Linked DNA regions of Homo sapiens. The protein of the gene in region 2 purifies or fractionates together with the protein of the main gene of each other region. This does not show direct contact. Each region holds a gene or a part of one and is shown on either strand. Other genes may lie near its edges. The genes, in order: YBX3 and CSRP1.

Region 1 (3,820 bases), on a different chromosome or scaffold from region 2:
GTTTAAAACCTAGATCTGTTTTTAAAATCACAGTGGGAATTCTTAGTATGTTCTGCCAGTCTTATACTCTAGCAGTCCAAGGCTGTTTTTTGAGTTAGTGTATATTCTTTTTAATTTTGAGGCCATCTTTTTATTTTCTTCTCAGGGTGCAGAAGCTGCCAATGTGACTGGCCCGGATGGAGTTCCTGTGGAAGGGAGTCGTTACGCTGCAGATCGGCGCCGTTACAGACGTGGCTACTATGGAAGGCGCCGTGGCCCTCCCCGGAATGTACGTTGTCTCTGTTACTTAACCAGTGATTGAGAAATTGTTCATGCATGGAATTAAGTGTATGTACTTGGAGCAGATAAATGCCTTGTCTTCTCCTGGAGACAAATGATTTAAGTGATTTTTATTTTTTCTTTAGAGGAAATTTTTATCTTATTTTTTAAAATGTGTATTATTGATTTCCATAGGTTTTTGGGAAACCGGTGGTGATTAGTTACATGAATAAGTTCTTTAGTGGTGATTTCTGAGATTTTGGTGCACCCATCACTGGAGCAGTATACACGGTACTCTTAAGGGGAAATTTTAGCGCTCAGAACTTTTCCAGAGCCGCTGGTCTCATTAGACACTTGCCATTCAGAAGTTGTATCAGTTAGGATATATTTGGCTACAAGTAATAGACATTTAATTATCTTTTAACAGGAAGACTTAAGGGAGACAGTGCTGAGGTTTTTTTTAACAAGGTTTCTCTTCATTTGGCTCTTTTTTCTGGCCAGAACCTAGTCACAGACATTCACTGGCAAAGGGGAATGGATTTCCATCATTGACTTAACCTTGTTGTTCATTCTTTGGTGCCGACACTGTTGACCTCTAAGAAAATCAAAATTTGGTTGGTGAAAGAGTGAGAAATAACTTGTGAACAGGCAATAAAAGTACAGGCCACAGAACTATTAACGAATTTGCCTTGGTTAAGAGGCTGTTTTATTTAGCATAGCATTTTTCCATTATTTCAAAGTAAAGAAGCAATAAGTGATTCTGTGGATTTTTAGTTCTTTAGGTTGGTTTCAATGCAGGGGAAAGAGTTTGTCACAAATCTGGCTGGAGCTTTCTTGGGAGGCTCAGTTTATAGGAGTATTCTCAAGGCACCCAAAACGGACCCAGTATATTTGTGGTCATGAGAAACTTACTAGATTTGAATCATTCTTGGTGTTTCTAGAATTAGAACCAGGTATTGGCACATTGAAGAAAACTCCGAATGTTTGTCAGCACAGGATTGTGACTGCCTGTCTCATCCAAAGAAAAACTCATCAGAATTAAATATCTGCAGATTGAGAATGACCTATCTTTATGTTTTGATAGCTTTATATCTTTCTGTTTACCTAAATGCTTTTCCTCCTTATTCTGCCATCATCACATCCTGCCCAAATTAATTCTGTCAGATTCCTTAGGACTTCCCACTTGTTTCTTTGTTTTTGCTTATCTTATTTGGTTTTTAATAAGCTATGAGGGGGATAGCTAGGAATGAGCTGCTGTAGCATTTCCTACATCATGTTCTCTTTGAAGTTCATCAGAGTCACAGAGCGCTAACTGTGATTATTTTGACTCCCAGGTTAATTCAAAAGCAAAAGTGGTAGAAAAACATTCAGTGAAAAATTTTTCTTAAAGACTTTTCCTGTCCAAAACCTGAAAATTCCAAAGTCATGCATATAAAAGATATTTAGAAACAAAATTGTTAAAACGCTTAAGAAACAAAATTGTTAAAACTCTTAAAGTATACATAAATGAGCTTTTTTGTTGTAATATCTAAGTCCCAACAACTTGTTCAGTATCTCTCAAAAGAGTGTGTTCAGCATTGCTGGTGCCATTATTATGCTTTGTAAAACTCTTAAAGATTTGATTGTGTGAAATGCAAAAGAGGAAGATAAGCCCAAGAAGAAAAACAGTTTATGTTGTCTCACACTTAATATTTTGGTAAGCATTTTCTGTGCAAATAAACGTTTACATAATTGTGAATCTCATCTTTGGTAGAGGTTTTATGAAGAGTAGAATGACTTGATTTTTTTTGAAGTTAGACTAGTTGAGGCTTTTTTGGAGGGGGAGTTTGGTTGCACATGTGGACTTGTTCTGGAAGGGTCCAAAGCTTAAATACACTCCTGTAAAAAAAAGTAATGGGTCATTATTTTGCTTTTTTTATTTATTCATTTTTAAAAACTAGTTACTTCCCATTAAAGACATTTGCATATCCCCTTTAAAGTAAGACTTGAAATCACAGTCTTTGTAGGATGTTTGGTTTTTTAAAATGTAAAATGGTAGTATATGATATAATTTAAATAGAAGAAAAATATAAAATGAATCGGTAAATTCCTTTGTGAATATTAATAAGATCTATTATTTAGAAACCTCCAGGATTAGGGCTTACTACCATCAAAGTATGATTAAAGCTTTACTCCTAAACATATAAAGGGAGTCATGCCTTAGGTCAGTGGTTCTCAAACTTCCTGATTTTGGGATCTGTTTATATGCTTACATGTTATTGAGGATTCTAGAGTTTTTGTCAATGTTTATTTATATTAATATTATATTAGAAAGTAAAATAAACTTAAAATGTTAATTGATTAAAAATAACTATATGTTCATGAAAATAACAGTTTTTATGGAAAAAAAATATTTAAATTGAAAAGAGTGGTATTGCTTTATACTTTTGCAGATCTCTGATGTATGGTTTAATAGAAGATAGCTGGATTCTCACATCTGTTTCTGCATTCAGTCTGCTGAGAGACCACATGTCATTGTAGCCTTTGGGAGACCCCACCATATACTTCTGAGAGAATGCCTGGGAAAGGCAAATAGCATCTTAGTAATATTATGGCAATAGTTTGACCTCGCTGACCCCCTGGAAGTTTTCAGAAATCCCATCCACACTTTACAGACTTGTAGGAAGAATACCACTTGGGTCAAATATGTTGGTAACATCATAAAATGTATTCTTTTTTGGCTTTTCCCTGACATTGCCTCAGTGGATGGTAAATGCTGGGAGACACGCATTTGATGGAGCAAAAATTATAAACCTTGCAGATACTCTTCGGGTGGTTGGTTAGCTGATACGAGTTCTAATGAGATGACTATTAAATTGATTGTAGATTGATTGCTCTTGCTTTTCTGCTTCTTGGTATTTTATCTGCACAGATCTACTCTAATCTTAATGTAGTTTATCCCAGGCAATCACATGATAATCTGGGTTAAATGCATTTTGTCTGTATAATGGAAAGGATTATATTGCTTTGGGGAGATTTTATTTTGGTGATATTCATCCTAAATGGTGTTCTTTGGTTCTTTCCTTGCTAAAACTTCTTCTGAATCTCTGTTTCTTTGCTTCGCTAGTACGCTGGGGAGGAGGAGGAGGAAGGGAGCGGCAGCAGTGAAGGATTTGACCCCCCTGCCACTGATAGGCAGTTCTCTGGGGCCCGGAATCAGCTGCGCCGCCCCCAGTATCGCCCTCAGTACCGGCAGCGGCGGTTCCCGCCTTACCACGTGGGACAGACCTTTGACCGTCGCTCACGGGTCTTACCCCATCCCAACAGAATACAGGTAAAATTGCAACTGAGACTTCTCTTCAGCAATCCTCACCCTTCCGTCCTTCTCTGCCTCCTCTTCCTCCTCCTCCTCCAACATCAGCTGCCAGAAACCTTGCTTATGGCTTCCTGATGCTACAAAAGCTGAGGCAAGGCCTTCAGTCTGTTTTTTCAAAGCAGTCATTCCGGTAACACTTCTAAAAGCAAAACCACGTGATCCATGCCTATAATAGGGAACCCTTATGGCCAAAGTTTCTAGTTGATA
Region 2 (3,820 bases):
AACAAGGCCTTTTAAGGGCAAAGACACTCCCAGTGCCCAGGCTGGTGGATGAGAAAGGAAATTCATCCCCTCAGATTTCCTGGTTGCCTAACCTTGCACATTGGCTTCTCCTCCAGAGAGCTGAAATGGGGGGACCTGGGTCTAGGTCAGTGCTGGTGCAACCTCAATAGTCACCCAGCCTTTGCTGCCTCCTCTGTAAAGCAGGGGCTGCTACCCCAAGCTCTCTAGGCTGGAGAAAAACTGAATCACACCTAGACCAACACCTCTCCTCATATTTCCTAGCCACCTCCCTGCCAAAATAAGCTGAATCCCTTTGCTCATTCATAAGCACCCAAAAGTACTCCCAGCTCAACATTTCTTGAGCGAGGCAATAGAAAGGTGGGGCTTCTCCCTACCTTTTCCACTTGAATGCAAAATTCTCTTATCCTACTCCTTAGTACAGCCCTAACTTTACCTTATAGCCTGCCTAAGTAATGGAAATAGTGATTCTTAGCTATTCTTAATAATTTTCTATTCTCATAATGAGATAGAACAAAAAACCCAACTTAATAATAATATTAATGTCTCCTGTTTTCATATCCTTTAGTCAATGGCAAGGATCTTCATTGTGACCTCAAAATAATCCCTGAAAATAAACAACAATAATAATAACAATAGCAAAACTGTACTGAGGACATACCAGGCACTACATTGCACATTATACATGTACTATCTCATTTAATCATTAAAACTGCCTTGTTGTTGGGTGTGGTAGCTCACACCTGTAATCCCAGCACTTTTGGAGGCCGAGGTGGGTGGATCGTGAGGTCCAGGCTGGTTCAAGACCAGCCTGGCCAACATGGTCAAACCCCATCTTCACTAAAAATACAAAAATTAGCTGGGTGTGGTGGCGCGTGCCTGTAGTCCCATCCACTTGGGAGGCTGAGGCAGGAGAATCACTTGAACCCGGAAGGCAGAGTGCTAAGATCGCGCCACTGTACTCCAGCCTAGGTGACAAGTGTGAAATTCTGCCAAAAGAAAACAAAAACAAAAACAAACAAACAAAAAAAAACTGCCTTATTTGTCAGGGGCCATTACTTGGTCCACTTTGCATTTCCTCCACCATCCAGGCCCACTTTAGAGCTGAAGAACTGAGGCTTAGGAAGGCTAAATTTTCCCAAGTTCGCTCAGCCAATAAATGGCAAAACTAGGATTCAAAGCAGGCTGTCTAGAGTCCAAGCTCTTAATCACCGTGCTAGGATCCCCTCCCATTTTGCAGCCTTGGAAATGGGTTTGAAGAGGCTAAATGGCCCAAAGTAGCATTAACAGTAGTAACAGCAGTAAGAGCAAGGGCTTCGGAGTCAGACAAACCTGGGCTTGAGTCTGGCTTAGCCCCTTCCTAGCTAGCGGATCTGGGCAAATTATGTAATCCTCCTGACTCCCAGTTTCTTCATCTGTACAACAGGGATACTAATCCCCATCTCTGTCCAACCATGACTGTGAGAGTAGAGATTCTAACACTGGCCTAAGTGTTAATTGTTTAACATTTCTTGATCAATTCCCCTATCCCATTCCTCAAGGTCAAAAAGCCTTGAAAGCCAAAACCTGAATCCAGAAGAGATGAAGATGGGCTCCAGGCCCAGACATTCCATAACCTTGTTGTGTGATCTTGGCCAAGTCACTTTTCTATCTCAGGCCTCACGTGATGCTCCAGAATTCCTCTCTGGCCCCACAGCTGAAAGACATCTCTTCTGTGATTTTCTGACTGCTAATCTGACACTGCAAACCCCAGGGGCAAGAGTTCTGCCTCTTCTCTACTGCAGCCTATCTGAAGGAAGTGATCAGCTCAATTGGGAACTGTTGATTTGCTACAGTGATTCTCACTGTGCATTGGTGATTGGGGGCTACTGTCAGAATATCATGGGGGAAGGGCATGTGCGGCAATTCTAAACAGTGTGAAAAAAGCCTCCTAGGAGGCTCTGGTAGGTCTGAACCTTGAAAATCTCTGCCCTGGGGGTATTTGGATGGGTTTTTGGGAGTCCACATCCCATGAAACAGAATGTATATTTTTGGGATCACAAATCCTTTGAAAATTTAATAAAAGCTATGGATCTTCTTCTAAGAAACAGACAGGTTCCCATGAAACTTTGTATATAATCTTCAGGGCTTTGTGGACCCTCTGCAGCCCATCCACGTACCCTTACTTTCTGTTCTCCTATATTAGAGATACAGATTGATCATTGCCACTCCCTATGAATTGCCCATTGTCCATCAATGCTGGGGATGTTACTGCTCATGGCTGATATGAGCTCCTTGGAGACTGGAAAGCACAGGTACATGCAACCCACAGGGACAAAGAGAAGAGGTTAAACCCCAGTGCTCAGGCTGCCCTGAGCAGAGCTAGGTCACCAATTTAAAAGTTCTGGAATCCACATTTCAGGAAGATATCTCCCCCCATCCCTCTCATGCCCAGCAGCCACCTTACCTTCCCAGCACCAATCACCTTCTCCGCAGCATAGACTGCCTGGCTGCATCGGGGGCAGCGCTCGGAGCCACCAATCTTCTGGGCAAATTTGGATGCATTGGGGTTGGTGGTGGGCCTGTGGCCAGGGGCTCTGCATGGAGAAGGGCATGGGGTGAGGTGACTTACACTGTAAGTACAGGTGGGGCTGGCACTGAGAGGGCATGACCCTACCTTCATCTCATGCCAGAGCAGCGCGCAATTCTCTCTGCCAAAGTCACAAAGGCTAGGGCCTCTAGGGTCATCTCCCATTTTACAGATGGACAAACCAAGCCTCAGCACAATGTTATTTCCATTGTAACATCATACTTCCCTCGGTCACCCAGTTAACCCCAGAATCATTTAACACCCCATTTGCTAAGAATTGCCCTCCTCTGCCCCTCATTCCTGCAGCTGGTCTATTATCAGATTCTTTACAGGAGAAATCTGCTGATGAATCATTCCCACTGGGGCAATGACCTTGGCTGAAACTTGGTAATTCATCCATCATTTCCGTCCACCCCCCAGGCCGAGGAGCAAGCCAGGCTGACTGCCAACAGCCACCATTTACCCAGAGGCCAGGGAGTGCCGTGGGGTGAGGGGGGTGTGGTGGGGCTGATGACACCCTATGGCATTTCGAAGAAAGGGAAATGACTTCTTCTCAGTAGTGAGAGATAGCAGGGCTGAGACAGTGAGGCTGGTGTGGCAACGGTGCTGCCCTGAGCCCCTGATCTGGCTCCGACACTCACTAGCCGTGGGACCCCAGGCAAGTCACTGAGCCTGGGCTGGATTTTCTCATCTATAAAAAGAGGAGGCAACATGGTGAAACCCTGTCTCTACAAAATACAGAATTAGCTGGGTGTGGTGGCACATGCCTGTACTCCCAGCTACTCGGGAGCCTGAGGCAAGAGGATCACTTGAGCCCAAGAAGCAGAGGCTGCAGTGAGCCAAGATTGTACCACTGCACTCCAGCCTGGGTGACAGAGCAAGACTCCCTTTCAAAAAAAAACAAAAAAAGAGGAAATTGGACTAAGTGATTCTTGGGGCCCCTCCCAGCTCTGACTCTCATACAAATATAGAATGCACGCTCCTTGCAGGGAGGAGCCCAGCCTGTTTTAGTCCCTGCTGCATCCCCAGCTCCTGCAGCAGCCTGACACATAGACACTGCTCTGTGACTGCCTTTTAAATAACTGGTTTTCTGAGCCTTCCATTGCTTACCCAAAAATGGTTGTAAATACACATGAGGCCTAATACAGGGTGGGGGAGAGAGCTCAAGAAAAAGGTTGGGAGGGGATCTTTTACTCACTCCTCGTGCTTGATACCCAGCGACTCCCCCTTGTC

What was found.
Region 1: the proteins of CSRP1 (region 2) and YBX3 fractionate together in Homo sapiens (co-fractionation; one large-scale study listed by BioGRID). This does not show direct contact.

What each region holds. Positions count from the first base shown.
Region 1 is NC_000012.12:10,709,659-10,713,478, reverse strand, and holds part of YBX3 (Y-box-binding protein 3), read left to right. Parts: intron 1-145; coding exon 146-268; intron 269-2,690; coding exon of another isoform or gene 2,691-2,720; exon of another isoform or gene 2,721-3,128; intron 3,129-3,364; coding exon 3,365-3,571; intron 3,572-3,820. UniProt on the Homo sapiens protein: Binds to the GM-CSF promoter. Seems to act as a repressor. Also binds to full-length mRNA and to short RNA sequences containing the consensus site 5'-UCCAUCA-3'. May have a role in translation repression.
Region 2 is NC_000001.11:201,486,391-201,490,210, forward strand, and holds part of CSRP1 (cysteine and glycine-rich protein 1), read right to left. Parts: coding exon 3,786-3,820; intron 2,595-3,785; coding exon 2,465-2,594; intron 1-2,464. UniProt on the Homo sapiens protein: Could play a role in neuronal development.